4 separate regions of the Homo sapiens genome follow, and regions 1, 2 and 3 are each linked to region 4. Evidence: fine-mapped expression QTL. A gene starts in region 4. Each other region holds a variant in brackets. All regions are shown on one strand. Distances are from middle to middle. Region 1 holds the start of PTGIS (prostaglandin I2 synthase). Region 2 has its middle 24 kb from the start of SLC9A8. Region 3 has its middle 39 kb from the start of B4GALT5. Region 4 holds the start of SLC9A8 (solute carrier family 9 member A8).

Evidence for each region. PIP is the estimated chance that this variant, and not a neighbour inherited with it, causes the effect.
Region 1: its variant is fine-mapped to the expression of SLC9A8 in gastroesophageal junction (GTEx, PIP 0.97).
Region 2: its variant is fine-mapped to the expression of SLC9A8 in whole blood (GTEx, PIP above 0.99).
Region 3: its variant is fine-mapped to the expression of SLC9A8 in whole blood (TOPMed, PIP above 0.99).

The regions. Positions count from the first base shown.
Region 1 is chr20:49,566,950-49,575,053 of GRCh38, forward strand. It overlaps PTGIS (prostaglandin I2 synthase), which reads right to left and starts at 1,188. Exons shown (of 10, transcript NM_000961.4): 1 at 1,094-1,188. The coding sequence starts at 1,167. It overlaps LOC101927486 (a long non-coding RNA gene), which reads left to right and starts at 1,095. Exons shown (of 2, transcript XR_244188.4): 1 at 1,095-1,224; 2 at 4,264-4,985. RefSeq lists enhancers at 1,488-2,104, 2,105-2,719. The variant C/T (reference allele first, on the strand shown) is at 3,816.
Region 2 is chr20:49,784,473-49,792,576 of GRCh38, forward strand. No RefSeq gene overlaps it. Among named protein-coding and RNA genes, the nearest start is that of SLC9A8, 24 kb to the right of the region's middle. RefSeq lists an enhancer at 1,211-1,450. The variant T/C (reference allele first, on the strand shown) is at 3,068.
Region 3 is chr20:49,749,225-49,757,328 of GRCh38, forward strand. No RefSeq gene overlaps it. Among named protein-coding and RNA genes, the nearest start is that of B4GALT5, 39 kb to the left of the region's middle. RefSeq lists an enhancer at 1,609-1,698. The variant G/A (reference allele first, on the strand shown) is at 4,054.
Region 4 is chr20:49,809,222-49,817,325 of GRCh38, forward strand. SLC9A8 (solute carrier family 9 member A8) reads left to right here and starts at 3,607. Exons shown (of 16, transcript NM_015266.3): 1 at 3,607-3,727; 2 at 5,787-5,968. The coding sequence starts at 3,702. RefSeq lists an enhancer at 3,286-3,425 and a silencer at 3,576-3,855.

The sequences.
Region 1 (8,104 bases), 240 kb before region 4:
ACGGGGTGAGAGAAATACAGGAACTTTTTGTACTATCTTTGCAACTTTCTGTAAATCCCAAACTAGTCTCAAATAAAAAGTATATTTTTTTAAATATGGAAGGTTCTACCCAGACTCAGCAACAGGAGAGGCCCAGAGAGGGAGAGAGGACTAGACTTCAGGGGCTGGGGGAGGGTTAAGGGGCTTCGGTCTTACCTATAACAGGATAAATATTTGTGTTAAGTCGAATGTATTCAGCTATTCCTTATGCAATTCAAGTTAACTTAAAAAATATTTTATGAAAAGGAGAGCTACAGCTATCTCCTTGATTTGAGGCTGTCTTTACTTTTTCTCCTAAATCACAGATGCTCAATGGAGCTGGAAAACCTTTGGGACCAGGAGGCTGTGACATCTGACCCTGGCTCCGTTCTGTCCAGGCTGTGGGACCTCAGGGGAAGGTAGAGACTTCATAGGCCTCAGTTTCTCCCTGGCAAATGAAATTACTAAGCCCACCGACCCCCGTCTTCCAGACGGGGAATCCCGGGGTGGGTGGTTCCAGGGCATGATCAAGACATCCCCCAGGGGCTCTACACTCCGCTGGCTCAACACTCCCATCTGTGTAATGGGTTGAGGAGCGAGGCTATCCCTATAGGACTGCCGAAAGCAAGGCAGGGTTTGACAGCGCGTAGGTGGGTGCCAGGTGCAGGCAGAGGCTGGAGAGTGGAGAGCGCTTCTTCCACCCGGGCCACGCAGAGGCTGTCCCCGCACGGCTCCCCACCCACAAACCCTCGGTCCTCACCTGAAACCCCCTCCTAGGTCCCTGCCGTCGCGCTAAGGGCCAGACTCGGACTTGTCGCGGTGGGCGATTCGCCCCGGGGGACCTACCGGACCCCGCACCTTCCCACCTTGCACCTTCTTGGCAGGGGGAGCACGGCCTGGCCCCCTCACCCACGTGCGGGGCCCCGGGACTCCCACCTCCGAGGGTCTCGCCTTGCCCGGGATACTGGAGCGGGACTCGGGCCGGGCCGGCCGCGGGCTCCGAGACCCTTGGGCTGCAGCCCGGGCGGGAGCCGCCCCCTTTGTCTGGCGGGGCCGAGCGGAGCAGGACACTCACCGCGTGCGGCGGCGGCTCAGTAGCAGCAGCAGCAACAGTGCGGCCAGGAGGCCGAGGAGCGCGGCCCAAGCCATCGCGGGGCTGGCGGGGCTGGCGGGGCTGGCGGGGCTGGCGGCCTGGCCCACTCCCAGGTAAAGTTCCCCGCCCCCACCCGGCGCGCCCCTCCCACTCCGCCCACCCCAGCCCGCTTTGGGGCGGGGTGGGGGGGGTGGGGGATGGGGCCCTCCGAGGTCCGCAGGGGTCGGACCGGGGCGCTCTGTTAGAAACCCTGCTCCCCCCAGCTCAGGCCTGATGGAAAATGTGGGAGGGAGGGGAGGGGAGAAGGAGGGGGAGGGGGAGGGGGCGGAAGGGATGTGGTGGGCTGGGGAGTGATCAAGGGGAAAGGAGATAGATGGGGGACTGAGGGGGATGTGGTGGACTGGGGGGTGATGGAAGGGAGGGGAGAGGGAGAGGATTTACAGGAAGGAAGAGATTATATGCGGGGAGGGAAGAGGGATGGGGAAGATGGGAGAGGACTTTTGGGGAAGGGAAGAGGAGGGAATGTGGGAAGACGGCGGGACGATGGGGAAACAGCCAAGGAGGTATGGGGAGGAGGGGGCACAGTGGGAGGAGAAAATGTGGTGGGAGGGGACGAACATGGAGGAGGAGTGTAAGGGGGTCAGGAGGAGCTTTCCCACCACATTCCACATTCCACCTAGACAGAGGAAACCCCCCAAGGCTCCTCCTCACCCCATCCCCCACCCCAGGCGTGCTGGGGACCTGGAGTTTTCCATTCTGTGGTCTGGGCTGGGAGGGCTGGTCTGGATTATATCGCACCCTATAGTATCTTCAGTAACTACTGGGCAGGGGGTACAAGGGTGTCTCAGGGAGTCCCCTCATCCTCACCTGCTTTGGGGACAGATAGTGCCCGTGAAGTATGCACCCTCTACCTGGTGCACGTTAGGGCCTCCGGATGTGGTGGCCATTGTCATCGCTACCTGGTGCTTGGGGTGCCAGCCCCCTGTGCCCGCGGCTCTGCAATGTACCACCCCAGGGTGCTGATGAGAACTGGGGGTCAATCCAGCCTCACTCCACGCCCCTGCCCCCACCATCCCCATTCCCACCCTGGGAAGCGTTGGGCAGGTAGCTCAACCTCTCTGAGCTCACCTCATTATCTGGAAACAGGGAGGGCAGAGTTGTGCTTACCTCTGGGGCTGTTGTGAGGAAGTGATGAGAGCTTGACACTAAAAGGAATCACAAACTGTTGAGTGCTTGGCACACTAAGTTTTATGAAACCATGGGCTGAACCTGGAGGTAAGACCCAGGAGGTCTTGTTCTAGTCCTGTATCCACCCATTCAGTGCCGGGTGAGCTTAGGCACGTTTCATTCCATAGTCCCAGCAGAGCTCTGGAGAAGCTGTTGCTCCTCCTGGTCTCCTGGCTTCCATCCTTATCAGCCAGGGTCCTGACAAGGCCCTTCGAGAACCAGCATGATCCGCCCCTTCTCACCTTTACCTGCCTGACCCTATGCCCCCGACTCTCTCCCTCACCCACTCTGCTCCAGCCACACTGATCTCCCCATCTTTCCCTAGAGGTCCCACTGCAGGGCCTTTGCACGTGCTGTTCCCTCTGTTCGGAGCATTCTTCGCACAGCCTGCTCTTTCCACCACCTCCCCGGTGCCTCTATCTCTGCTCAGCTGTCACTGCAGAGAAGCTGTCTTTGGCCACCTGGTCTAAAACAGTCATCTCCTCTTACTGATTTTTGTTTCTTTGTTTTTTTGATAGTTTTTTTTTCTGGCAGTACTTCACATGTCCTGCTATCATACTCAAGATTCATTCATTTGCCTGCTTAATGTTGGCTGTCGAGGCAGCTGGATGACCCCCTTGTGGCCTCAGCAGATTCAGAACAGCAGGAGGCAAAAGGAGTTTTCTGATCCTCTTGTTTATTTTTCCAGCTTATCTGCCAGAGAAGCCAACAATCCCAAGAAGGCCATAGAACGGGTCCAGAGGATTTTCTCCAAATTTGGGGAGCTCCAAAGGGCTGTCTGCTAGCAGTGGGGTTCACAGCTGGGCTTGGCCGATCCTCAGCTTTGTGACCCCAAGCAGACTGCTCCACCTCCCTAAGCTGAGGTTCCTCATTGACAGAATGGGGAAAAGAGAACCTCATGGAGTTGAGGTCAGGAACAAACGACCTGGTCCATGGGGCACACCTATGTGAGTGCCTGTCACACCATGAGCATCAGGGAAAGTTAACCGCAATTAGCGCTTATACCAGTTCCGCTCCTCTCCATTATCTGTGATCAGGCTTGGTCTCAATTTTCCCATCTGAAAAATGGGAAGAACAGTTCCTTCCTCATGGGGCTGCTTTGAGAACTGAATTAAATGAAAAGAGAATGAAATCACCCAGCACAGGGTCTGGTATACAATAGGTACTCAATAAATATTAGTTCTTCTACTCCCCACCCCTGGCTTCAGTGCAGACCAATATCACCTCAATACAAATATCTCTTCCAGATACTCTCTTCCCTTCTCGACCCATAGACAAAATCCTCCCAGGGAAGGAGAGGCAGCTGCTCACACACCAAAGGGAGATGAATGTGAGCCTCTGGTTCTTCCTGGATTTGTTCAGGAGTCGGCATATGTTTAGGAAGGTGGCCAGGCCCCCTTCCCAGAGAATGACCCACCATGGGTCTGAGCTGGTCCAGGAAATCCACCTTTGCTAGTGATTTGTCCTGAGGTGGGCA[C/T]CTTCCAGATATCTGTTGCGGGCTTCTAGAAAAATGTGTTTCCTTCCTATTTGCCTTCTCTTCTGCTTTGGGGGCAATCGTGTGGGAATGTGATTAGTGGGGGAGCTGAGGGGGGCTGTAGTGTTATGAGGGAAGGCCAAGAAAACTGCAGAGCCCCAAACCAGAGCTGCGGAATCACCATCCCTGGAACCACCTGCCTATAGATTTCTCATTTAATGAGCTAACCACACGTCTGTGCTAGGACACCATGAGTCAGATTTTTCTAATACTTGCAGCCAAAGACATTCCCAACTGAGACGCCTTCTAGATATGGCTGAAGGGAGGACCAAATGAGGCAATGATGCATCCGGAGCACCTCTGCAGGACTGGCCCATGCGAGAATTCAAAAGTGTTGCTTTGTTTTATTATTTTTACTTTGCTTACTGTGTAAGCTTTCTATGTTTATCAGGCTGACAGGACATCCAACCCTCTGGCTATGGCATCTTGGAGGAACAGGCAGGCCTTGAAAATAGCAGAAATTCCGAATTCCCCTGCCCCGGGAGGACTCAAAGGACCCTGCTGAGGACAGAGCTGATATGGCCTCAGAATAAAGATGAGGGAAGACCATCCCAAGGAAGACCCCTCTAGCCCATGGCAAAAGGGCTGGAATACGCAAGGATTTGAAAAGCAAGTTTTGCTTTCCATATAAACCTAAGCAAGTCGCTTAATCTGTGAGCCTCAACTACTTTACTTGTGCAATGGGCATGTTGCTGGTAGTGGTGATAGCAGGGAGCCACCGAGAGAGCTTCCAAGTGTGCCATCTAAGCCCTCCTCTGGGGAAGGGAAGCTCCTCTGGGGAAGGGAAACTGGACCCCCGGGAAAATTTATTCTCCCAGGGACGAACATCCAGACATTTCCCTGTAGGAGCCTCAGTGTGTTCAGATGTTCACTGTCCAGTAGAAACAAGACATCTAGGCAACTCTCCCATCTCACCAAGCCTCTGCTCTCTTCTGTGGCCACTGTGGGGTTGTGAGAGTAATGTCAAGACCCAACCCAATTAGAACACAGGGAATTTTGCCTGGGAAAGGGAGCCCTTCTACCCTACACCCCTGCTTTCTCTCTTCCAAGGATCAGGTCTGATTCATGTCTGCATCCTAAAGGCTACAAATAAACTGTGTCCGGAAAGGAAAATATTATGTGTATTGCCTTCTTCAAGGCTAAAAACCAGTCTCAACAGAGAGGGGCAGTTTTAAATATTTTTTTGTAACAATAGTTCTAACTTTAGTTAGTAACTGAAGCCATCTGAAACACTTTTTCATAATAATTTATTTATTCCCCACAAAGAACCTATAAAATGGGTAGTAAAATTATTCCGAATTCACAGATGGTGAAATCAAGGTCCAGAAAGAGTCACTTCACCCAAGGTCACGTAGTACTTCCTTTGATAAGCTAGAGCATGGGAATTTGATGGCTTCTTAGGACAAGCTAACTTACTCCCTGGTGCTGCAAACACACCCTGGGCCTTCCCACCTCCACACCTTTGCTCATGCTGTTTACCTGCCTGGAAGCCCTCTCTTTCTCTACCTTTTGATTTTTCCAAATCGGTTAGGAGCAGGTTCTCCAGGAGAGCCAAGATGAGATGAGATATACTAAAGGCTTATTGAGGGAGTGCCAGGGAGTAAAATGAAGAGGGAGCCAGAGAGGGCTGGGAGAAAGGGACAGAAAGGAGGACAAATGGAAGGAAGGGACAGAGGAAAGAAGGGACCGTGGGCTGCAGTGCATTCTTAGAAAGGTCAAGTCTGGCCGGGCACAGTGGCTCATGTCTGTAATCCCAGCACTTTGGGAGGCTGAGGTGGGTGGATCAGTTGAGGTCAGAAGTTCAAGACCAGCCTGGGCAACAAGGTGAAAACCCCGTCTCTATTAAAAATACAAAAAATTAGCCAGGAGTGGTGGCTGGCACCTATAATCCCAGCTACTTGGGAGGCTGAGGCAGGAGAATTGCTTGAACCTAGGAGGCAGAGATTAGAGTGAGCCGAGACCGCACCACTGCACTCCAGCCTGGGTGACAGAGCGACTCTGTCAAAAAGAAAAAAGAAAGAAAGAAAAAGAAAGTAAGTAAGTTAGTTCAAGGCTAACAGGTTGTCCTTGAGCCTCCTGAGGAGCCCTATGTCTCCCAAGAACAAGTCTGCTTCCCCCAGTGATTGGCTAGGAGCAAACCCTGGGAAGCATGGCATATCTGTCAATCAGGCTCCACCAAGGGAGGTCCCAGAGGTGTGTTTTCATGGCTGCTGCAGCTACGAAAGGAAGCACAGCTGCCGTCTAAAACTGGAACAATGCAAGAATAAATTCTTCCACTTACAGAAGCTAAACGAGGTTGAGAGGTGGAGGGGAAGGAGAGACCCAAACCGCAACGTTTCTGGTGTTTTTGTGCTGCTAAAGAGAGAGTGGTAAACTCAAGTCTTCGAGCAAGTATTGCAAATGAATGAAGTGAGCCAGTCATATCAGGAAGGCAACAGGGAGGGATGGGAACAATGGAAAACTAGAGAGGGCTGCCCCATCCAAAAGGAAGCAGCTTCTGGCAGTACCAGCCAACTAAAGCCACGTAGAAATACATGCCTAGTGTGGCCAGATCTTTAGACTCAAGAGAAGCCAGAAATAATGGCTCCAATTATTTTAAAACGCTGCATAGACCAACAGCACACACCTGCCCCCAGATTTTTAGCCCTGCAGTCTAGTTGTGCCAAGGGCCAGTGGTTTAAACATTTGGGGTATGTAAAATAGGTTTGGAGTTGGGATGTTGAACAAAATTGCTCTGTAGAATTAAGGAAGGACAACAGAGTTTTAGGGGGCAGCCTGAAAGAGGGGGCAAAGACCAGGCCGACATGAGCACAGATTGGGGGCCTGTCCCAGTGTGACATCCTCTGTGGAATTAGGAGCCAATAAATGACCATTTCTATTGGTGATGTGTCATACTGAGTGTTTAGTTGTTTGCTGTCTTGGGCTGTGGAATAACACCACACATACACTCATATACATACACACGCACACACACACATGCACTACTCTCACATACACACTCACATGTTGCCCCAGTTACCCCCAAACGTTCAGAAACAATCTGCTACACACGTCAAGTGACCAACGCATCCTGGTTTGCCCAGACTTTCCCAGTTTTAGCACTGAGAGCCCTGCATCCTGGGAAACCTCTCGGTCCTGGGTAAACCAGGAAGGTTGGTCACGCTATCACCACACCTCAGCGTAGCGTGTGAGTGGCCAGAGATTGGGTCAGAGCTGTGGCAGCCACCTTGGAGCCTGAGGAGAATCTTTGCTAAGTCACACAATTAATTAGCCACCCCTGGAACTGTGCTGCAGTAGATTAGATCATAGTCTCCAATTTTTACCCACTCCCTGTATCAGAATTAGACATTCACGCCCTTGGCTGCAGGGTTGCGGTGCCTCCCACTATGAGCAGAGAATAGTATCTCCCTGACTCAGTGATGGTGGACTCGGGCCTGTGACTCAATTTGATCAGTGGAGGATGAAGAAATGACCAGTTGCCAGTTCTGAGCAGAGGTTTCACGAGGAATCACATATTTCCACTTGACCTTGGTTTCTGCCTTGAGCCATGACCCACAGGGCAAACCTGAGCTCAACCTGCAGCCTGAAGTAGAGAACCCCTAGCTGACCTGCAGAGGTCCGAAGAAGAAAAATGTACGTGTTGTTACAAGTCATGGAGATTTTGAGATCTTCTTAAGCAACAAGAATTGACTAATGTATACTTTATCTCTGAACTTTTTAGAATCCTTTTGGTTGAATGTTCTTTGTACCAGTTAAATTAGAATAGGCTGCTTTCTACTCTTGGAGCCTTGGTACATCTGTACAAGAGGATGATGACGACAAGGCCCCCCTCCCATGGTGGTTGGACGAATTCAAGAAGATCTTGTGTCTAGTGCATGCAGTAGGCACTTAATAAAAGAGATGATGCTAGGCCGGCTGCAGTGGCTCACGCCTGTAATCCCAACACTTTGGGAGGCTGAGGCAGGAGGATCATGAGGTCAGGAGTTCGAGACCAGCCTGGTTAACATGGTGAAACCCCGTCTCTACTAAAAAATACAAAAATTAGCTGGGTGTAGTAGGGGACACCTGTAATCCCAGCTACTCAGGAGGCTGAGGCCGGAAAATCATGTGAAACCAGAAGGGCGGGGGTTGATCGCGCCACTGCACTTCAGCCTGGGCAAAAGAGTGAAACTCTGTCTCAAAAAAAAAAAAAAAAGAAAAGAAAGAGAGATGAAGCAAGGCTGGGCTCAGTG
Region 2 (8,104 bases), 25 kb before region 4:
TATATATTTATATATAATATATATATTAAATAATGAAATATATTAAATAATAAATAAATAAATAATTTATTTATTGTTTTGTAGAGATGGGAGTCTCACTATATTGCCCAGGCTCATCTCAAACTCCTGGCCTCAAGCATTCCTTCCACCTCAGCCTCCCAAACGGCTAGGATTACAGGTGTGAGCCACCACACCCAGCCCTCCCTCATACATTCAAATGGCCAACTCCCTTGGCTTCCTCAAGTCTTTGCTTAAATGCCATCTTCTCAGGAAGTCATTTTCTGAACACTCTATTAAAAATTGCAACCTGCCCCCAAACACGTCTTGCACTCACTGTCCGTGTCTCTGCTTAAATTTTCTCCGTAGCACTCATACCATCTAACATACTGTGCATTTACTTGTTTATTTTTATTTTTTTGAGACAGGGTCTCACTCTGTTGCCCAGGCTGGAGTGCAGTAGTGTGATCATGGTTCATTGTAACCTCTGTCTCCTGGACTCAAGCAATCCTCTCACCTTAGCCTCCCAAGTAGCTGGTACCACAAGTGCACATCATCACACCTGGCTAATTTTTGTATTTTTTGTACAGAAGGGGTTTCGCCATGCTGACCAGGCTCATCTCAAACTCCTGGGTTCCAGCGATCCACCCGCCTCAGCCTCCCAAAGTGCTGGGATTATAAGTGAACCATCATGCTGGGCAATTTATTTATTTATTTTCCGTTTCCCTCTACTAATGAATCAGCTCCAGGAGTGCAGGGACCTTGTCTGTTTTCTACACAGATGCGTTCCCAGCACCTAGCACAGTGCCTAGCAGGTATGTGAATGAATGAATGAATGAATCCATGCATGCATGAATGAAGTATCCTTGTACAAACCATGAACCATGTACATGTTAGGTGTCTACAACTTGTCGTTTGAATTAATGAATAAAAGAACAGGCAAGGCGCGGTGGCTCACACCTGCAATCCCAGCACTTTGGGAGGCCGAGGTGGGCGGATCATCTGAGGTTGGGAGTTCAAGACCAGCCTGACTAACATGGAGGAACCCTGTCTCTACTGAAAATAGAAAATTATCCAGGCGTGGTGGCGCATGCCTGTAATCCCAGCTTGGGAAGCTGAGACAGGAGAATCGCTTGAACTCGGGAGGCAGATGTTGCGGTGAGCCAAGATCGTGCCATTGCGCTCCAGCCTGGGCAACAAGAGTGAAACTCTGTCTCAAAAAAAAAAAAAAGAAAGAACAGACAGCACCAACCCTCCTTGTAAGTTCAATATGAGGTTGATCTGAAGCTGCCACCCAAGGCTACTGATCAAAATATCCTTCTAAACAAGTCTGTCCCACAGTCCTGGCGTCTGATAATATGGACAGTCAGGCTGGCTGGCACCAGACTGGACCCAGATGAAGGAATGGAATCAGGCCACATTACAGGGGCAAGAGGAGCCTTGTGGCCAGAGGTTCTAGAGGTCAGCAGCAAGTCATGCATCTGAAGAGGAAGTTGATTGCTGTACCTCAAGCTGAAACAGAAACTGCGGTGGCTAGCAAGGAAGGGTCCCCACCTGTGCGCCTCAGCCCCTTGGCCATTGCCAGCTTCCAACAGACCACAGAGACTTTTGGGGGAAAACTTTTTTATTGAAGTGTAACAGACATACAGAAAAGTGCACAAATAAGGAAAGTGCACAGGGGAGCGATGGCTCGATACATTTTCACAAAGGCAGACAGCGGGGTAACCAGCCCCCAGCTCAAGGAACAGAACATTCCCCGCCCCGGAGAAGCTCCCTTCAAGTCTTTCCCATCCTAAGCGATAACCGTTATCCTGATTCCAACAGCAGTGATGATTTTTGCCGTTTTTTGAACTTGATGAAATGGCAGCACATAACACGTATTCTTTTGTGTAAGACTTACTTACTACAAACTTTGTATGTTTGTAGCAACAGCCTTTTGACCCTGTCTCTTCCTCCATGCCCTCAAAGAGAAAAAGGAACCTAATAATAACACAAAATAAAGCGAAAGCATACTTGCTTGACTGGTTTAAATGTGCCATCTGGCCGGGCATTTTGGAGGCCGAGGCGGGTGGATCACTTGAAGTCAGGATTTCGAGACTAGCCTGGCCAACATGGTGAAACCCCATCTCTACTAAAAGTACAAAAATTAGCTGGGCATGGTGGTGGGCACTTGTAATCCCAGCTACTTGGGAGGCTGAGGAAGGAGAATCGCTTGAACCTGGGAGGCAGGGGTTGCAGTGAGCAGAGATCGTGCCACTGCACTCCAGCCTGGATGACAGAGGGTGACTCCATCTCTCAAAAAATAAAATAAAATAAAATAAAATAAAATAAAATATAAAATAAAATGTGCCATCCATTCTTTCATGCTTCAGCCACCCAGTGGGCTGGAACTGTTACTGCTTCCATTTCAAATATTGGGAGGCTGAGGCACAGAGAGGTTAAATAATTTGCTCAGCCAGGAAGTGAAGGTCTGTATTTAAAGCCAGGTCTCTCTGATCTCCAAGCTCATGTTCTAACCCAGCATACACTCCTTATCAATAAAATGACCATGTATTGAACACCCTCTTTGGACTGAATACTATACTTCAACTTTATGTCCATTGTCTTATTTGATTTTCCCAGCCGTTGATGAGTAATATACCATTATCCTTGCTTAGCAAATGATGAAAGCAGGGTTCAGAGAGGTTAAGGAACTTTCCTAACGTCATACAGCCCAGGAAGGCATGAAATAAAAATTTAAACTCTATTTTGTTGATTCCAAAGTCCAGTGCAGAACGATATCAGTACCCAGCATTTATGCGCATCTTTCAAATATACCTTCTGAGGCCCTGCAGGGTGGCTCATGACTGTAATCCCAGCACTGTGGGAGGCCGAGGTGGGTGGATCAGTTGAGGTCAGGAGTTCAAGACTAGCCTGGCCAATATGGTGAAACCCCGTTTCTATTAAAACTACAAAAATTAGCCGGGTGTGGTGGCACACGCCTGTAATCCCAGTTACTTGGGAGGCTGAAACAGGAGAATTGCTTAAACCCCGGAGGCAGAGGTTGCAGTGAGCCGAGATTGCACCACTG[T/C]ACTCCAGCCTGGGTGACAGAGCAAGATTCTGTCTCAACAGAAACAAACAAACAAAAACAAATATACCTTCTGAGTTTTTCAAAAAAGAGACAACAATAGCAGTTACCTTTTATGGATCATCTCAGAGTCAGTTGTTTTGGTCAAAGATTGCAAATGATCCCTTAATTTGTGTTCTTGTCTTCTCTCTCCTAGTAAGAGTATACCTGATTTTTAGCTTGGCACATGGCTTCCCATGGCTTTACTACCTATCTCAGCCTTCCTTGCAGCTAGGGGTAGCCACATGACTAACTTATAGCCAGTGAAGAACTGTTCCCCGACATGCCCACATGGCTCATGTCAACCCCAGCATTACATCATTTGTTTAAACTCTCAGTTTCTCTGTCTTGAAAATAGGGATTTAAATATTTATTTAAGCCAGGTGTGGCTGAGGTGAGAGGATCACTTGAGGCCAGGAGTTCGAGACCAGCCTGGGCCACACAATGAGACCCCTGCCTTTACAAAACAATTTTTTAAAAAAATTAGCTGGGCATGGTGGCGTGTGCCTGTAGCCCCAGCTACTCAGGAGGCTGAGGTGGGAGGATTACTTAAGCCTGAGAGGTTGAGGCTGCAGTGAGCCTTGATTGCGCCATTGTGCTGCAGCCTGGATGACAGAGCAAGACCCCATCTCAACATATGTGTATACATCTATCTATCTATCTATCTATCTATCTATCTATCTATCTATAGCTATATCTGTCTCATCTCTCTCTCTCTCTGTCTATATATATATATATATATATATATATAAATAAATATGTTCTTTTTTTTTTAATTTAACAAAAGCAGGAAGTAGACAGACACAGTGGGTGGTTCATGCCAGTAATCCCAGCACTTTGGGAGGCCAAGGCGGGAGGATTGATTGAAGCCAGGAGTTTGAGACCAGCCTGGGCAATATAGTGAGACCCCTAACTCTACAGAAAGTTTAAAAAAAAAAATCAGCTGGGTGTGGTGGTATATGCCTGTAGTCCCAGCTTCTTCACATCACTGCACTCCAGCCTGGGCAATAGAGCATAACCCTGTCTCTTAAAAACAAAAAACAGGAATATATGTAGTAGAGTCACCTTGAGTGTGGATTGGGAGAAGAAGCTAGGACAGGAAGGACACTAATGTGTTTGTGTTGGGTAAACAAACCCTGTTTATTGGGAGACCACCTGCTCCAGAAGAAAAGACACCAGGTGAAGACAGGAAGCTGGGTGCTGCTAACTGAATGAGCTGGGACAAGGCCCTTCCCTTACCTAGGGATAGATAATAAAAAATATTTTATTGTATATTTTTAAGGTAGTAGTTCCTTGTCTGCAGAGTGGGGATTTAGATTACATCTATCCTTTTGGTTTTGTCTACTCACTATGAATTCCCCTATCATAACAGCATCCTAATTTCTCTGGGAGCCCCCTTCTTTACTCCCTGTCCATGTGAAAGGCATGCAGCACTAACTTTATCCTTGGTTCCAGGAAGGCCAATGCTCCATGCTGGCCAATCAGCACCCCTCATTTCTCTGCCCATAGGGATTGGCTCAGAAATGGGCACCTGCCCCAAGTGGACCAGTGAGTTATCCCTCAGGTTTTTGCTGGGATTGTTTTGCTTCTGCTGCGCTAGGCTGGTATGAAGAGGGTCTGAAGCTCAAAGGTAGCCACCATTGTGAGAGTGAAAGACTGAGCCCTGATAACTTATGAACCCCTGAATCCAGCTGTACCTGAAGGCAGCCACATATTCCTGAACATGTTATTCTCCATGAGTCAATATGGTTCCTCTTTGTTGTTTTTTTGTTTTTTGTTTTTGAAATGGAGTCTCGCTGTCACCCAGGCTAGAGTGCAGTGGCACCATCTCAGCTCACTGCAACCTCCACCTCCCGGGTTCAAGCAATTCTCCTGCTTCAGCCTCCTGAGTAGCTGGGACTATGGGCACGTATCACCACGCCCAGCTAACTTTTTTGAATTTTTAGTAGAAACAGGATTTTGTCATGTTGGCCGGGCTGGTCTTGAACTCCTGACCTCAAGTGATCCACCTGTCTTGGTCTCCCAAAGTGCTGGGATTACAGGCATGAGCCACCGCGCCCATCCTCAATATGGTTCCTCTTTGGACTTAAGTCACTGTAGCAGATGACGTGGCTTCTGTGTCCATATCCCCTTGGCATTCATCCTTTTGACCCACAGTGAGTGGATGGCTTCAAATTTCCACGCCTATCTTTGCAGCCTGAGGGCTTTGCTCTCATATACGCTCTGCATACACAGTCTGAGAATGCTGGGGGCTTCACCCTCCCCTACAAGCAGCCCTTAACCAATGAGTGACAGGGGCTGGTGGATAAATGTCCCCACTCCCTTGCCCTTCACCTGGATAATTCTGAGGTGTATTGCACTCTGTGTCCCACAGTTCCCCAGCAGGGTTGAGCCCCAGCTGCCCAGAGTGATAACCTGCTCAGTAACTTACCTTCTATTGGTTTCTTTCCCTTCCCTGTCCTACTTCCCTCCCCGACCAGAGCTTCCTGGGATCATTTCTCAAGTAAACGATTTAATATCTGCACACAAATCCTTGTCTCAGATCTGCTTCTGCAGGAAACCAACCTAAACGTTTCGTAAGATTGGTTTTCTGTCACGCACAGCTAAAGCTGCTCTGGCAGACGCATGGTTCAAGAATTCTTTTAAAATATTTGCCTCATAACTGTATTTTTCCAGCCTGCTTTTCAGCTCAAAGGAAGTATATGCACTGAGTTGACTTATCAGTGTGCATAGCAGAAAGGGACCCAGTAAGAGAAAGCCCCCTGAGAGGCCCTGGGACAGCTGAGTGATCCACCCTGGCTGCCTCCTCTCCACCTCATTCTCACACACTAACCTTTCCCAACCCTTTTCATTCCAAGGCTCCTAGCCAGCGCCCCCCACCTGCCTTAGGAGATAACCCCAGTTCCTTCCTCGGATTCTTTCATCTGCAAGGCCTCAGTGTTCTTGTCCGGCCAGTGATAAGGACATTCAACGTCATTTTCCTGTCCCTGACCTTTGAAAGAACCCTACCCATCTGGGGCCTGTGATGTAGACTCAGACTGAGATGTTCCATCTTGGGGATATAATCAGTGGGAAAGAGAGAGATTCCTGAGAGGTCATCATTCATTCATTCATTCATTCAAGAAATATTTATGGAGTGCTTGGGCAAGGAATTCTAAATTGCAGAGTCAACTAGAGCCAGCTTAAGCAGAAAAGGAATTTTTTTTTTTTTTTTCTAAGATGGAGTCTTGTTGCCCAGGCTGGACTGCAGTGGCACAATCTCGGCTCACTGCAACCTCCGTCTCCAGGGCTCAAGTGATTCTCCTGCCTCAGCCTCCCAAGTAGCTGGGATTACAGGTATGCACCACCACGCCTGGCTAATTTTTTGTATTTTTAGTAGAGATGGGGTTTCACCATGTTAGCCAGGCTGGTCTCAAACTCCTGGCCTCAAGTGATCCACCTGCCTCGGCCTTCCAAAGTGCTGGAATTACAGGCATAAGCCACCGTGCCTGGCCCACAAAGGGATTTATGAAAGGTAGGAAGTACTCTAGATGTTAAATAGCCACAAACGGTGCAGCCAGGAGCATCGATGCCAGGAGCAACACTCACCTTCACTGTTGAACTGTTCTAATCAAAATATCACTGCTGCTGCTGCCCCCCTCTCCCCAAACTCAGGACCTAGGTAGCTAGAGACAGGCTGCTAGAATTGCCCCATGCTTCCCCAGAAGGACCAGATACCGCTCCCACTGTGCTTGCCAGAAGACTCCACCACTTGGCATCCTTCTGCTTGCTTCTGTCTCCAAGGCTTACTAGGGGAACCCAGATCACATAAGGCACTCTTGCTGCAAAGAAATCTCAGAATGTAGTTTTTCTCTGTCTGGCCTTTACAGTACAGGAGGTCACACTACAGGGGAATGGGATAGGTGAGTGAGCCAATCTGTAGTATCTGCCGTAGGCTCACAACAATGATAAAGTCAGGGCTGGGCACAGTGGCTCATGCCTGTAATCTTAGCACTTTGGGAGACCAATGTGGGAGGCTCCCTTGAGGCCAGGAGTTTGAGACCAGCCTAGGTAACAGTGGGAGACCACTCCATCTCTACCAAAAAAAAAAAAATTAAGTGGTGGTGTGTGCCTGTAGTCCCAGGCTGAGGAGGGAGGAATGCTTAAGCCCAGGAGTTCGAGGCTACAGTGAGCTACGATCGCACCACTGTACTCCCGCCTGAGCGACAGAGCAAGACCCTGCTCTAAAAAAGAAAAATTAAAATAAAAAAATTTTAATGATAAAATCAGAAGAGTCCCCTGCTTTCCAGGAGCTCACCATTGACAGGAGGATATCAACACCAAGCAATTCCAGGAGGGAGAGCATTCCAAAAGGGAAATTATAGACAGTTACACACACATAGACCAAGAAAACTCAACCTATTCTAACAGGACCTCCTGAAACAGGTGCCGTTGTACATGATGTGTGAAGGTGTTTAGAGGCTAACCAGGCAAAAGAAGGGCAAGAGGGAATAGCACTTCAGGCAAGGGAAAATCTCATATGCAAAGGTCCAGTGGCAGGGAAGGTGAGGGGTGCAGGAGGAAGTGAGAGAAGCCCACTTCTCTCTGACTGGAGAACAGAGAACAAGGGGAACAGAGGGAAGGAAGAGGGGCGGTAAGGGAATAGACCATGACCTTGTGGTCCATGATGTGGAATTCAAACTGTCTCCTAAGGCCAGTGGTGACCACTGAATGCTTATGAGTAAGGCAGTGACATAATAGCAACTGCTAATATTTATTTATTTATTATTTTGAGATGGAGTTTCACTCTTGCTACCCAGGCTGGAGTGCAATGGTGTGATCTTGGCTCACTACAACCTCTGCCTCCCAGTTCAAGCGATTCTCCTGCCTCAGCCTCCCAAGTAGCTAGGATTACAGGAGCCTGCCACCACGCCCAGCTAATTTTTTGTATTTTTAGTAGAGATGGGGTTTCGCCATGTTGGCCAATCTGGCCTTGAACTCCTGACCTCAGGTAATCCCCCC
Region 3 (8,104 bases), 60 kb before region 4:
GTGGCGCCATCTCAGCTCACTGCAAGCTCCACCTCCCGGGTTCACGCCATTCTCCTGCCTCAGCCTCCCGAGTAGCTGGGACTACAGGTGCCCGCCACCACACCCAGCTAATTTTTTTGTGTGTGTTTTTAGTAGAGATGGGGTTTCACCATGTTAGCTAGGATGGTCTCAATCTCCTGACCTCGTGATCCACCTGCCTCGGCCTCCCAAAGTGCTGGGATTACAGGCGTGAGCCACTGCGCCCGGCCCTAGTTTTGCATGCTCAGGGCTGTGAAACACATCCTCAGCTATTCTTGTCTGCTTGTTTCTTAAACACCTAGACCTGGAATTTGCAGGGGGAAAAGCATAAACCTGGGGCCTCCAATGCATGTTACTTAGGCAGGTGGTTGTGCATTGGATTGCTCTTGTTCCTGGGCAGGACAGATAGTGGCTAAAAGCCAGGCTTTGAAGTCCTGTAGAGCAGAGTTCAAATCCCAGCTCAGTATTTACTGGCTGGGTAATCTTTGGCAGGTCACTTCACCAGTTTGAGCCTCCATTTCCTCATTTGTAAAATCCTGCCTTCATTGGTCCTCATCTCACTTCTGACTCTAAACCACCATATCCCAAGATGGGGCTGATTAGAATGACTTCCTCATGGAAGTTACAATTATTGAAATTGTAATCGCTTGATGAATGGAAGTTCCCACTTCTTTTATCCCAGGCAGTTTCTCAAAAGCAAAAGGAAAAGGAACTAAGGCCAAAATCTGGGAACCTACAAAATCACTGGGAATGAAACAGAAGTGTGGGCATTAGAATGGAGGCTCAATATCCCAGTCCAAGATCTATGGATCTGGTGGAAAATAACCCACTAAAACTGGCTCCAACTATAATAAAAGGGGGAGGCTGGGCTCGGTGGTTCAGCCTGTGATCCTAGCACTTTGGGAGGCCAAGGCGTGCAGGTTGCTTGAGCCCAGGAGTTTGAGACCAGTCTGGGCAACATGGCGAAACCCTGTCTCTACAAAAATACAAAAAATTAGCTGGGTGTGGTGGTGAGTGCCTGTAGTCCTAGCTACTGGGAGGCTGAGGTGGGAGGATCACCTGAGCCCAGGGAGTTTGAGGCTTCAGTGAGCCATGATTGTGCCACTGTTCTCTGTTCTCCAGCCTGGGTAACAGAATGAGACCCTGTCTCAAAAAAAAAAAAAAAAAAAAAAAAAAAGAGGAAAAAAGAAAGAAAAAAAAGGGGAAATTCACCATAAGAAGTATCAGTCAGGAGTGTTTCTGCTGTTGCAGAAACCCAACTAAATTTGGTTGAAGCATGAGGAGAATCAACTTTTATTTTTGGTCACTTAATTGAAAACATCAGGACAAGTGCCAGCTTCCAGCACAGCTGGACCCAAGGGCCAACATGTGGCTCCAGGGACTCTCCCTCCGTTTCCAGTGCTGCACTCCAGCTTTTGCTGTGTCCCCACTCCTGGGTCAAGATGGCCTCTCAGCAACCGCAGAGCCAGGCAATTCTGTCTTTTCACGGATGAGAACAGAAAGTCCCAGAAGGAAGTCTCACTGGGTCTAGCCTGGTCACATGCCCATTTCTAAACCAATCGCTGTGACTGGGCCAGCCTAGAGCTAGGCAGAGCTGGCCCCCACGGACAGAAAGGAGGAGACCCGTAGCTCCCGGGAGAATGCAGGTGCTGTTTCCAGAAGGGGCATCAAGGCCAGAAAGGCAAAGACAACAGGTGTCTATTATGCCACCTGGCTGTACTTTTTGTGAGAACCGCTGTTATCACATGAAACACAAGGGCAGGAAGTGCAGTGGCCTCACACATTTCTTAAATGAGCACCTGAAAGGCCACCAGGAATTGTGGCAGCCAAATCCTGGTCTCTCTATGACTCTGCCCACAGGTTTCCTCATCTCTGCTTCTCTCTTTTCCCTCTCCCTGTCTTCTTCCCTGAGCCCATGAGCAAACCCGACTGCCCCATAGCACCTGACAGCACAACCCCTTCCTTTAAGCAACAGCCCACAAGACTCACCACATTCTCAAGACAGAGAATCTGATCACCTCAACCAGTCAGGTGCCCGTCTTTGTGCAGTCAATTCTGGCTGGAGGGCAGGGTTGAGTAGCTTGTACGCGTGGTTTCATGGGGTAGTTGCACCTGTTTCAAAGAGAGATGGGTCACCACAAACTGGGCAGAAACCACACGATATGTCCATGATGCTCTGCAGCTGAATGAAGTTATCTACAAAGAAACTGAAGCCAAGGCCAGGCAGAAGTCAGGCCTGAAGCTAAGAATTTGTTTCCCCAAGACAGGAACATTCCTGCATCTGGAGGCTGAGGCTGCTTGGACAGAGAAGTGCATCCAGCTGCCAAGGTGAAGCTCTGAAGGGGCCTGTCCATGAGAGCAGGGCCAAGAACGCCTAAGCCCACCAGTAAGATGCAAGAACACCTGTGCGAAATAATAATAATGATCATAGCTGGGTGTGGTGCCTGACAGCTGTAATCCCAGCACTCAGGGAGACAGAGGCAGGAGGATCACTTGAGCCCAGGAGTTTGAGACCAGCCTGGGCAACCTGGCAACCCCTTCCCCACACCCCTTGTCTCCACAAAAACGACAAAAAATTTTTAAAATGATAATAATATAAAATAGCACTAATAATAAATGTTATTCAGTGCTGCTGACCAGGTATCACTCTAGACACTTAAATGAACAGCATTTTTGCTTTTTTGTTTCTTTGTTTTTGAGACAGAGCCTCACTCTGTCCCCCAGGCTGGAGTGCAGTGGCACCATCTTGGCTTATTGCAAACTCTGTCTCCTGGGTTCAAGTGATTTTCATGTCTCAGCCTCCGGAGCAGCTGGGATTACAAGCGTGTGCCACCACGCCCAGCTAATTTTTTGTATTTTTAGTGGAGACGGGGGTTTCACCATGTTGGTCAGGCTGGTCTCAAACTTCTGGCCTCAAAGTGATCCACCCGTCTCAGCCTCCCGAAGTGCTGGGATTACAGGCGTTAGCCACTGTGCCTGACCTAAATGCGCAGCATTTTTAAGCCTAATGATACAGTCAGATGGGTATTTATTATCCTCATTTACAGAACATATATTGAATGAGTGAGCATTAACTGATCTTTCACCTTATTAATTCACTTAGTCATTCACTCACTCAATGGATAAACAATTAATGAATGCCAACTATATGCCAAATACCATGTGTGCTGGGTGTTGGGACACAAGCAGTCCTGTCTTTGTGAATGTTACAGTAAAATGTTGGAGGCTCTGAAGGGTGAGTGGTCATTAATTAGACGGTTAGACTAATAAGAGGGGAAGGGAAAGGCATTCCAGGTAGAAGGAACTCCATGTGCTAAGGCACTGTGGGGGAAGGGCATGTGTGGGGTGGGAGCAATGCCTGTTGACTGATGGTGTGCCAGAGAGGCAGAGAGCCACGCAGTTTACACCTGCTGGCTCACTGACCCTTACCACAGTCCTGTGAGATAGCTACTGCTATTAATATCATTTTGTAGATGAGGAAATCGAGGCACAGAGAAGGTAAGTAACTTTCCCAAGGACACACAGCACCATTAGCAGTGAAAGAGCAGCAGTTATAACCCAGGCCTGTGACCAGAATTCTGAACATCTCTAATCTTTAAGTAAAGGAAGGCAGGAGAAATTGGTCCATTTGGGGCAGGTGTGTTTTCTGGGAACCTTCCAGCACTATTTTCACTTGCAGCTGTAGCCACAGGCTACATAGATGATTTCCAGAATGGAGGGGAAGAAGAGTGCACCCAGCCTTTCCTGGCCACAGGCAGGAATCCTTTTAGCCAGTTATTAATGCTCAGCCACAGGAGATGCCGCAGTGAGACACACAGAGGAGCCAGACCAGGGAGAGGCAGCAAGAAAGACAGCATTGATCCTGGAGGTATACATTTAGGAGAGAGAACCTGTCAGAACAGAAAGAGCTTGGACTTGGGACCAGGCCAACCTCAGCCCAAATGGCAGCCCTGCTACCCACCAGCTCTGTGACCTTAAGTAAGTTTCCTCTTAGTCTCCAGTTCTTTATTCAAGCAGAGTAAAAGTATGCTTCCC[G/A]CCTCCCTCCCACCTCCATCCTGTAGCCAACAGTCCCCCCTCCCCAGAGGCAGGCACTATGACTAGTTTCATGCATCATCTTCCGGGTAAATTGTAGAGAGATAGATGGATGAATAGAAGTATATATGTGTGTGTATAATATAGTACACACATATATGCAAATATTGTAACTATTGGGATGCTTTGACTAAGTACAAAAAAACCTACAGATGCAAGATTTACTTATTAAGAACTGTGGAGATAATAAATGCCTAATTTCTGTGTCCAACTGCTCATTAATGTCTAGTAAGAATCTCAAATTTAACATGGTTAAGATTAAACTTTTATTGTTATTATTATTATTTTGAGACAGAGCCTCACTCCGCTGCCCTGGAGTGCAGTGGTGCAATCTTGGCTTACTGCAGCATCAACTTCCCAGGCTCAAGCAATCCTCCCACCTCAGCCTCCTGGGACTGCAGGTGCACACCACCACGCCTGTCTAATAAAATTAAACTTTATGATTCCTCACCCTCCAAACCTGTTTCTCCCTTACTAAATACCTGGTTACTCAAGCCAAAAATACACTGAAATAATTCTGGATTTTTCTCTCTTTCACTCACTTTTTTTGGGGGGTGCTGGGGTGCAGTGGCGCCACCTCAGCTCACTGAAACCTCCACCTCCTGGGTTCAAGGAGATTCTTGCGCACCAGCCACTGGAGTAGCTGATTACAAGTGTGTGCCACCATGCCCAGGTTTTTTTTTTTTGGTTTTTTTTTTTTTTGGTATTTTTAGTAGAGACAGGGTTTCGCCATGTTGGCCAGGCTGGTCTCGAACTCCTCACCTGAAGTCATCCACTTGCCTTGGCCTACCAAAGTGCTAGGATTACAGGCATGAGCCACCACGCCTGGCCTTTCACTCACTTTTTACATCTGATTCATCACATAGTCCTGTCCAGCTTTTCTGAAAATCTAGAGATAGATCCACCATTAAGTGAATGAAGCAAAGCTGAGATCAGGGCTCTTCAATTGCACAGCCCCTTCCAAATCTAGCAATATGTTCACACAGTCATGTGTTTCTGCAACATCTGCAAAGGTAAGTATTTTAGCTGCAACTGGTTAGACAAGGTCTCTCCAGCTCCCCAACGTTGCCTGCCTGGGAATGTGCATCGGGTGGCATTTGGGGAGCTATGGGCAGGGATCAGCTAAGGGGAAGATGAGTTAGGGAATCCATTAAATTTGGGTTTAGTGGATGTAATCTTTTTTTTGTTTTTTAATAGAGGTGGGGGTCTCACTGTGTTGCCCAGGCTAGACTTGGGCTCCTGGGCTCGAGTGATCCTCCCACCTCAGGCTCCTGAGTAGCTGGGACTACAGGTGTGCACCACTGCACGCAGCTTTAGCGGGATGTAGTCTTGTAGCTCACGATCTTTTCGGTGAATAAGGAAAGTATTGCTTGTTGTCCTGGCAGAGAAATGGCTTCCAGGATACTCCTTCTGCCCATGCTACTGACTCACCCAGTATCAAGACACAAAAGTCTGGCACGGTGGCTCATACCTGTAATTTCAGCACTTTGGGAGGCCAAGGCAGGAAGATTGATTGAGCCTAGGAGTTCCAGACTAGTCTGGGCAACATAGTGAAACCCTATCTCTTCAAAAAAAAAAAAATTGTTTTAGCTAGCCTGGAGTGGTGGTGGTGTGTTCCTGTAGTCCCAGCTATTAGGGAGGCTGAGGTGGGAGGATCACTTGAGCCCAGGAGGTCAAGACTACAGTGAGCCATGATTGCACCACTGCACTCCATCCTGGGCAACAGAGAAGCCCTGTCTCAAATTAAAAAATAAAAATAAAAAAACAGGCACAAAAGTGACTGGGCACAGTGGCTCACGCCTGTAATCCCAGCACTTTGGGAGGCCGAGGCGGGCAGATCACGAGGTCAGGAGATCGAGACCATCCTGGCTAACATGGTGAAACCCTGTCTCTACTAAAAATACAAAAAAATTATCTGGGCGTGGTGGCGGGTGCCTGTAGTCCCAGCTACTCGGGAGGCTGAGGCAGGAGAATGACGTGAACCCGGGAGGCGGAGCTTGCAGTGAGCCGAGATCGTGCCACTGCACTCCAGCCTGGGCAGCACAGCAAGACTCCATCTCAAAAAAAAAAAAAAAAAAAAGACACAAAGTTATAGTACTAAGGATGCCAGAGCAGGAAGAGAGAAGGAATCTGAATCCTTAGTGATAGCATTGCTTCCCTAAATGAACCAACTGTGAAACTGTTCTACATCCAGACTCCTCATAGGTAAATTATACATTTGCGGGTTGGGTATTGTTTTATATTTGCAGCCAAAAGCATCCCAACAGATACAACAATATATGCTTCCATGCCTCTAAAGTTAACCTGGAAGGAGATATACAAGACTGGTAATGCTGAATGCCTCTGTGGAGGGGGACAGGTAGCAGAGGGGAATGGGAGGGAGACCTATTTAATTCAGATTTTTTTGTGTGTGCTTGAATTTTGTTTCTCTGGGGCCAACTTTCACCATTTCAAAAAGTAGATAGTAAAACTTCAAAGTATGTGGAACACTTGGGAACTTTTTTTTTTCTTTGGGACAGAATCTTGCTCTGTTGCCCAGGCTGGAGTACAGTGGCACAGTCTCGGCTCACTGCAATCTTCTTGTCCCAGGTTCAAGTGATTCTTGTGCCTCAGCCTTCCAAATAGCTGAGATTACAGGCATGCACCACCACGACTGATTAATTTTTCGTAATTTTAGTAGAGATGTGATTTCGCCATGTTGCCAGGCTTGTCTCAACCTCTTAAGCTCTGGTGATCCATCCGCCTCAGCCTTCCAAAGTGCTGGGATTACAGGTGTGAGCCACGGTGCCCAGCCAGGTTTTTCATTTCTTTTAAGCGCATGAAAGAAGTACATTTAATCTGGCAAGGCTGGCTCTTGCTGAAGTGGTCTCGGAGAGGCCATTGGAACAACAAAGAAAGAAATGTCATTGGCAAGTTCAGATACTAAAGGGTTGGAAAGTGATCTGGCACTCAGCATCCTGCAGCTTGAGGGACATTTGGAGTTCTTCCTGCCTGCTTCCCACTGCTGAGCAATTCCCAGCCCAGCCTGATATTTCAAATGATTTCCAGGAAGGGGAACCTGGCACCAGCTGTACCCCCTTGAAGTTCTTGTGACTGTCTTCTTCAAATGCATCCGCCTGCTTCTTCTTCAAAAGACAAGAGAAAATGCTGCTGGCGAGCTAAGAGACTTCAAAGATGGTTTTGTCATGTGTTTTTTGAGTCAAGAGGCTAAGTTTCTGAGAGGAGGAGAGATTTTTTTCAAGGACACATACAGTTAATTGGTGACAGGACTCCAGTGTCCACTTAGCTAGGCTCCTTCTTGCTCCTGTTCTGCCCAGGGTCCTTAGTTCTTCCAGGCTGTTCCACCCAGTAGGCCTCCCAGGTTCTCAAAGTGATAGCACAGGGAGATCTCCTGGGGAAAAAAATGACCTTGACATCCATGGTCTGTGAGTCTGGGGAAGGCTGCATTCTATAGCAGCCTCCTGGAGATTTACAGAGCATGTTGGCAGATTAAGGGTTCTGCAGAGTCCTGCATAAAGAAAACTACTTAAAAAAAAATTCCTGGCCAGGCACGGTGGCTCACGCCTGTAATCCCAGCACGTTGGGAGGCTGAGGCGGGTGGATCACTTGAGATCAGGAGTTCAAGACCAGACTGGCCAACATGGTGAAACCCCATCTCTACTAAAAATACAAAAAATTAGCCGGGCGTGGTGATGCGTGCCTGTAATCCCAGTGACTCGGGAGGCTGAGGCAGGAGAATCACTTGAACCCAGGAGGCAGAAGTGGCAGTGAGCCGAGATCACACAACTGCACTCCAGCCTGGTCTTGCTGTGTCACAAAAACAGAGTCTTGCTCTGTCCCAAAAACAAAAACAAAAACAAATTCCTCCCAGGTCAGGATATCAATAGTACTCACCTCGTAGTGTTGTCATGAAGATTAGTATCACGAGGCTACAACCATTTATCGGATATCAGAGTTTCAAAATTTACACTAAATGGGTTCAATAAGATTATGT
Region 4 (8,104 bases):
ATAAAGCTCTTAAAATATATCCCCTTTTGGTTCTGCTTCTCTGATTGAATCCTGACTGATATACATGGTAACCAATTTGATTCCCTGTTTAATAAAAGCATTAAAGATCAAATTCTTAGCCAGGCACAGTGGCTCATGCCTGTTATCCCAGCACTTTGGGAGGCTGAGGCAGGTGGATCACTTGAGGTCAGGAGTTTGAGACCAGCCTGGCCAATATGGCGAAACCCCGTCTCTACTAAAAATACAAAAATTAGCTGGGCATGGTGGCACACGCCTGTAATTCCAGCTACTTGGGAGGCTGAAGCAGGAATCGCTTGAACCCAGGAGGCAGAGGTTGCAGTAAGCCGAGATCGTGCCACTGCACTCCAGCCTGAGTGACAGAGTGAGACTCCATCTTAAAATACAACAACAGGCCAGGCCTGGTGGCTCATGCCTGTAATCCCAGCACTTGGGGAGGCCAAGGCAGGCGGATCACGAGATCAAGAGATTGAGACCATGCTGGCCAACATGGTGAAACCCTATCTCCACTAAAAATACAAAAATTAGCAGGGCATGGTGGCACATACCTGTAGTCTCAGCTACTTGGGAGGCTGAGGCAGGAGAATTGCTTGAACCTGGGAGGTGCAGGTTGTAATGAGCCGAGATCGTGCCATTGCACTCCAGCCTGGGTGACAGACACTCCATCTCAAAAAAAAAAAAAAAAAAAAATCCAAAGAAGAATGGTATTTCATGACATGTGAAAGTAATGCAAAATTCAAATTTCAGTATCCATAAAGTTTTGTTGGAACACAGCTATGCCTATTTATATTATTTATGCTGCATGCAAACTACAGAGTTGATTTGTTGCTACAGAGATAGTAAGGCCCACAAAGCCTTCAGTATTTACTGTCTGACTCTTTACAGAGACTGGTCAGGGAGGGCTTCCCTGAGGAGGGGACATTTAAGCTGAGACATGAATAACAAGAAGACTGGAGATAGCGGGCAGAGCTGTCTAGGCAGAGACAATGGAGAGCAAAGGCAGTTTTCTCTCTAATCTTGTAACAGTCTTCTAAAGAGAAGCGTTATTAAAGAAAAAAAGAAAAAAAAATTGAGGGGGCCCTGAGGCTCTGAGGGTGCTGTAGCCTCTCAGGGTCACGGAGACTGTAGGTCCTGAGGAGGGGTTGGGAACCAGCACTGTCTGGCACCAGAATTTGTGGTGCCTTATGCTGCCTCCTTCTCGGCCTGACACAGCATTGGAGCCCAGAAACTGCATGTTGAATGGCTTTATTCACCTTCCTCGGGGAAGGACCAGGGATTTTAGATTCATTCTCAGGAATAGGTGAGAAGAGCCAAAGACTCACCCATGGGCATGAGAGAATGTTCTCTGCAGCCTCATGGTTAGTGGTAGGCCCAGAGGAGGCCAAGGGCAGTAGGCAAGACAACGGATAGAGAAGAGTAGTGAATTCCAGCTATGTGGAGTTTCCAGCTTGGCGAATTCCAGCCATGTGGGGTTTATTGGTGCTGGTAGAAAATGGTAGCCTCAAGCCCTCAGTTGACAAGTGTGGCCAGAGAGAACCCCACTCTCAATCCTTTGTAGACCAGGTCATTCCCGCCAGGCTCTGTGCTAACGGAGGAGAGTAGGTTATTAGTCCCATTTAAGAGCCAGAGAAATTAAGGCAGTGGAGAGTAGCAGGGCTACTGGTTTAAAAACACTGGCTCTGTGCCTGAATCCCAGCCTTGTCATTTGCTAGCTGTGGGACCGCAGGCAAGTGCCTTGATTTCTCTATGTCTGTGGATAATGATGGTATCTACCTCAAAGCTATGTAAAGAATTAAGGAAACAATAGCCCAACACCACACCTGCAGGAAGGAAGCAAGTTTATTATTACTCAATAAACATTGGTGGATCCTGATGACATTCTCTCAGTCAGCTTTAGCAGTCTTAAGAGACTGCAGAGGATGGAGAACCCAAGGTTAGAGCCAGATTTCTTCTCTACCCAGTTCCTCGGGGCCAAAACCCTGACACCATGCTTAACTCCTCTTTTATACGCCATAGTCCGTCAGCAAACCTTGTCTTCAGTATGCGTCCAGGAGTCCAACCATTCCTGCCACCTCCACCGTATTACTTTCATCCAGACTGCCATCAGCTGTCACCTAGATTATTGCAAAAGCCTCCTTGCTGGCTTTGGGGCTTCCATCCTCTCTCTCTCGCCAATCCCCAGTCAACTCCCAACAGGCAGCAAAGCTTAGGTTACTTCTCAGTTCAAAACCCTTCTAGGTGTGCTAGAATTAACTGATTTATTTACTCAATGATTATTTATTATTGAGTGTCTACTATGTGCCAGGTACTGTTGTAGGCATTGCAGATAAAATGGAGAACAAAACAGACAAAAATTTCTGCATTCATGAAGCTTCCGTTCTCATGGAGGGAGATGGTTAACAAACAAGTGTATGAGTAAAACATATGGTAGGTTAGGTGTCATGTGGAAAAATAGTTTAGGGAAGGCGGGGGGCCTTGGATTTTAAGTAGGGTGGTCAAGGAGGTCTAACACACAAGATAAGGGTTAAATAAAAGGCCAAACGTAGGAGAGGTGGGAGCCAAAGAGCTACCCAGAAGAAGAGCATTCTAGATAAAGGCTCAGTAAGTGCAACGGTGGAAGTATTCCTGGTGAGTCTGGGACAATAGTGGAAAGTCAAAGTGTGTGGGAGGGGAGATATAGAGCCCCATGCCCCCCTCCCACACACTTCAGAGGGGAAAAGGGGGCAGGATTGAGTCCTGTACATTCCCCACGTTTTTTTTTTCTCTGGAGATTGGAAGCCATTGGAGGGTCTAAGCAGAGGAGTGATGAGTTAAGCTGCTGTGTGGAAGTCCGTAAGGAACAGGGGTGAGTCAGAGACCCTGAATGGAGCCGTTGCAATTATCCAGATGAGATAGAGTGCCTTGGATCAGGAAGGGAGGTAGCAACAGAAGCGGCCAATAAAGTTCAAAGTCCTCAGCCCCAGTCCTCCCGATGGGGGTCTCACCTACCCCTCTCACCTCACCTTGTTCCTCCCTGCATCCCCACCCCACCGGTCACTGCTAGGCACATAGAAGCATCTACTAAGCATGTGGTGAATCAATGAACCCCTTAATGAATGGTCCACCCCTAGATCATCAGCATCCTTTTTAACGCTAGGCATATAGTCTGAACTCAACACATGTTTACAGATGGAATGCTGCACAGTCCTGCCAAGTCCAGGCGGTTATTCCTCTCCACAGCCGAAGGAAACTAAGGCTCGGGTGGGGAAGTGTCCCCCTGGGGTCTCTCCGCTTAGGCTGCAGGCTGGGCATCCTTTTTCAAACTCTTTTAGCACAGCGAAGTCGAGGGCACTGGGTGGAGGGTGCTTGCTTGCCCTCAGGGTGAGTCACAGTGACCTCAGAGGAGTTTCCCCAAAACGTCCCCGCCCTGTGATGGGGAAAAGCCGGAATCTCTCGGTCCCAGGTGGTCATGTGGCCCAGGCCGGACAAGCGTCCCGAAAGCCCCGGGAGAGACTAAGAAGCAATCCTCCCACGCGCTTTCTCCCACCCTCGGGCCACTGAGACGGAGGGACAGAGGGCCGCCCTCGCGCGGCCGAGGCCCCGCCTCCCGCTCGCCCGCCCGCGCCTCCAGCGGAAGCCGGAAGCAAAAGCGGGTCCTGCTAGCCCCGCGGCTCCGAACTCGGTGGTCCTGGAAGCTCCGCAGGATGGGGGAGAAGATGGCGGAAGAGGAGTGAGTGGGCTTTTTCCCGGGCGGCGGAGGCGGCGGGGCTGGGCCCCGGCGGGTGACAGCGAGCGCCTCAGGCCGCCCTCCGGCCCCGGAAGGCGGAGCTTCTTTTGCTGGTTGGCCAGGACTGACCAAGCCGGTGCCTACGAGGAGGGCGGGATGGGCGGGCCTGGGCCCAGGTGGGCCTTGCTTTCCCCTGGAGATCGGTCCCTCGAGCTGGGAATCTACTGCCCAGCGCAGGCCCGGAGAGCTGTCTTGCGGAAAATACAAACCATATTTACTTTCCCAGTTTTCGGTAATCTCATGGTTACTGAGCCCTCTTCCGCCTCCTCCAGGAAGTCGTCCGGGTTCTCCACACCCACCTCCTACGTAGCCAGTCGCCTCCTGTATAACGATCAGTTTTCATGTCTTTCTCCTTCACTAAGTTTCATTTAGTCATTAACTGTTAGCCATCTACTCAATTCCAGGCCCTGGGCAGGTGGTAGGAAAGGAGGCCGACCAGGAGCCGCTCTCTGGGAGCTTCCATTCTAGTGGGAAAAGAAGACCATAATTAGTCAAGGTGGTTTCAGATCGTGATTAATTAACGTTATTTGTGCCTAGTGTTCCATTATTGGAACGCTAAGCATGTGGGAGTTATTTATATCCTACTGCTCAAGGTCATCGCCAAGGTCTGATTTTTCTCACGTCTGCAGTTCTAAAAATTGCAACCTCTGGCATGAATGGGTTAAGTGTTCTGAAGGAAGCAAAATAGAGTTAAGGTTGGGGAGTCCACTCAGGAAAAAGTGACATTCAGCAGAAACTTGAATGACCAGAATGAGGGATAGGAGAAATAACATCAGGTTCAAAAGGCCTGGCTCAAGAAAGAGTTTAGTGCTTTTGAGTGACAGGCAGCATGGCTGGTGTGTAGAGAGGAAGGGGGTTAGCTGGACAAGGGGAGATGGGGAAGGACGGGCTGTGTCCTCCAGGTACTTTTGGGCAAGTCCAAAAGTCATCTCCATACCTGCAGGGCAGAGTCTGTTGCAGATTGTAGATGCCCTATCACTGTTTGTGGAATGAGTATGTGAAGATGAATAAGGAACCCCTTCATTGATACTGGAGTCCTTCACCTGATAACTTTTCAAATATATTTCTTGGCCATGTGGGGGTCATTTCATGTAATCAGTTATTTATTGAGCAGCTGCTCCATCCCAGACACTAAACAGCCTCAGCAGCACAAAATAAAAGAGGCAATATAGCCCAGCGATTTCAAGTTTGGGTTTTCAGCTTGATTCTGCCACTAACTGAGATGTTGGTGAAGTTTTGCAACCTCCCTGAGCCTTAGTTATGCATGAGTAAAAAACGGAAAGTAATCATACCCAATCAGACATGTTATACCTATTAAATGAGAGGTAGTGTGTTACCTAGTTCCTGGAATAAAGCAGTGCTCAGAAAATAATAACTTTTGTAGTCACAGTAACAGTTATTATAGCAATATTGTACTAGTTCACAATCCCAGCACAGTGTGAAAGAGCTGTGGGAACATACGCAGTGGAGTGGGTAAATTCGGGTGTGGTAAGATGGGGTAATAGGAGGTGACATTTGAGCCGTTTGAAATCTGAGAGGGATTTTGTAAAGTAGGGTAGGGCATGCCCAGATCAACAACTGGGCAAATTGAGGTGGCTTCTTCAACTTGCAGAAATAATGCCAGGAAAATAATGTAAATTGGAGAAACAAAGGTGCTAAGTAAACAGTGTTGGACCTTGGAAAGTGATGAGACTCCAGTTTGCCTCCCTTTAAATCCCCCAGTATTTGCCAAAGAGCAGGCAGCATTTCATTTCTATACTAGCTCTGATTCCCTACCGTTCTTGTCCTCTAAGTGGCTGTATTCAAAAGCACCAGAGGCCACTGGTACCCTTGTGCTGTGCAGGCAGGGATTTTCTTAGTAAGTTTCTCTCGAAGGCCTGCCTGTTAAAGACTTCTGAATCCCATAAAGTTCTTGGACAGCTTCTCTTTCTGGTGTGAGGTGTGTGAATTGATGTTTTGGGACCCTTTTCCATTATCTAATTATGCTTTCTATGTCCTCCAGGAGGTTCCCCAATACAACTCATGAGGGTTTCAATGTCACCCTCCACACCACCCTGGTTGTCACGACGAAACTGGTGCTCCCGACCCCTGGCAAGCCCATCCTCCCCGTGCAGACAGGGGAGCAGGCCCAGCAAGAGGAGCAGTCCAGCGGCATGACCATTTTCTTCAGCCTCCTTGTCCTAGGTGAATATGGACACTGTCATCCCCATCATCTGCCATCCCGTGTCTGTGTGCTCGGTCTGTGTGTTTAACCCTGTCACTCCTCTTGACTGTCAAGTCTTCCTCCCATTTGGTTTTCATATCAAACACTGAGGGAACATGATCAGTTTATAACATCATTAACAGGAAACTCTCTTCTTTATAAAATCATGGTGCTTAGCAAGTTCTGAAGAGCTGTTGATGTAATATCTTGGCCTTTGAAAGAAGGATTAAAAAAATTTTGGCCTAGAAAGAATCTTGAGGCCTGGCGCGGTGGCTCAAGCCTGACATCTCAGCACTTTGGGAGACTTGGGTGGATCACTTGAGGTTAGGAGTTCAAGACCAGCCTGGCCAACATGGTGAAACTCTGTCTTCACTAAAAATACAAAAATTAGCTAGGCGTAGTGGTGTATGCCTGTAATCACAGCTACTCAGGAGGCTGAGGCACGAGAATCACTTGAACCTGAGAGGCAGAGGTTGCAGTGAGCCGAGATCACGCCGCTGCACTCCAGCCTGGATGACAGAGTAAGACTGTCTGGAAAAAAAAAAAAGAATCTTGAACATCTAGTTTAATGGATTTCAAGTTCTACTCAAAGGAGTATGCACCTGTGCAGGGGATGAAGGAGCAGGGGGTGGGGTGGCAGGAGGTGGGAGGAGTCAGATGGGAGAATATCTGACCCCCTGCTCCTGGCTTCAATCAGAGCAGCATTTTGTGTTCATATTTATTTGACTTCCATGTGAATTTTATTTAATGGTTTTGCTGCTGATTGAAAGAGCAGAAACCCTTGCCCCAGCACCCTGTTTTCCTTAACCTCTGTCATTCTCATTAACCATGGTCATGACTTTTGCCATATCTATGTACCACCTGTATTGTTAATTTAGTTATGTACTATTTTTGATTAAATGCATTCACTCTCTGAAAACCTCATTTTGGGCCGAGTTTGGTGGCTCATGCTGGTAATACCAACACTTTGGGAGGCCAAGGCAGATGGATCACTTGAGGTCAGGAGTTCCAGACCAGCCTGGCCAACATGGTGAAACCCTGTCTCTACTGAAATTACAAAAATTAGCTGGGCGTGGTGGTATGTGCCTGTAATCCCCGCTACTCAGGAGGCTGAGGCAGGAGAATTGCTTGAACCTGGGAGGCGGAGGCTGCGGTGAGCCAAGATCGTGCCACTGTACTGTAGCCTGGGCGACAGAGTGAGACACTGTCTTAAAAAAAAAAAACAAAAAAAACCAAAAAACTAATTTTGTTCAACCTTCTCTTTTAGTGTGTGAGGAAATTTCAGCATAGAGAAGTCAGGTGGTTGTCATACCAGGCTGATATAAGACTAGAGACTGATAACCAGGTTACCAGATACCAGTCGAGAGGTTTAGATAAAAGACAAAAACTTAAATGCCTCCCAGTGTGCCTCCATCTCAAAAAACAAACAAACAAACAGACAAAAAAGAAATCCAGTTGAAACTACACAACCACTTTTGATTAGCTAAGGAATAAATAGCTTTGAGTTTGACCCAAGTTCAAATTCTTTTTTTTTTCTTGAGATGGAGTCTTGCTCTGTCGCCCAGGCTGGAGTGCAGTGGCATTATCTCGGCTCACTGCAAGCTCTGCCTCCCGGGTTCACGCCGTTCTCCTGCCTCAGCCTCCCAAGTAGCTGGGACTACAGGTGCCTGCCACCATGCCCAGCTAATTTTTTGTATTTTTAGTAGAGTTGGCATTTCATTCTGTTGGCCAGGATGGTCTCAATCTCCTGACCTCGTGATCCACCTGCCTCGGCCTCCCAAAGTGCTGGGATTACAGGCGTGAGCCACCACGCCCAGCCAAGTCCAAATTCTTGTTTGGCCGGGCGCCGTGGCTCACACCTATAATCCCAGCACTTTCGCGTGGATCATCTAAGGTCAGGAGTTCGAGACCAGCCTGGCCAACACGATGACTCCATCTCTACTAAAAATACAAAAAATTTTAGCCAGACGTGGTGGCGGGCACCTGTAATCTCAGCTACTCGGGAGGCTGAAGCAGGAGAATCACTTGAACCCGGGAGGCAGAGGTTGCAGTAAGCCGAGATCGCGCCACTGCACTCCAGCCTGAGTGACAAGAGGGAAACTCCATACCCCACCCCC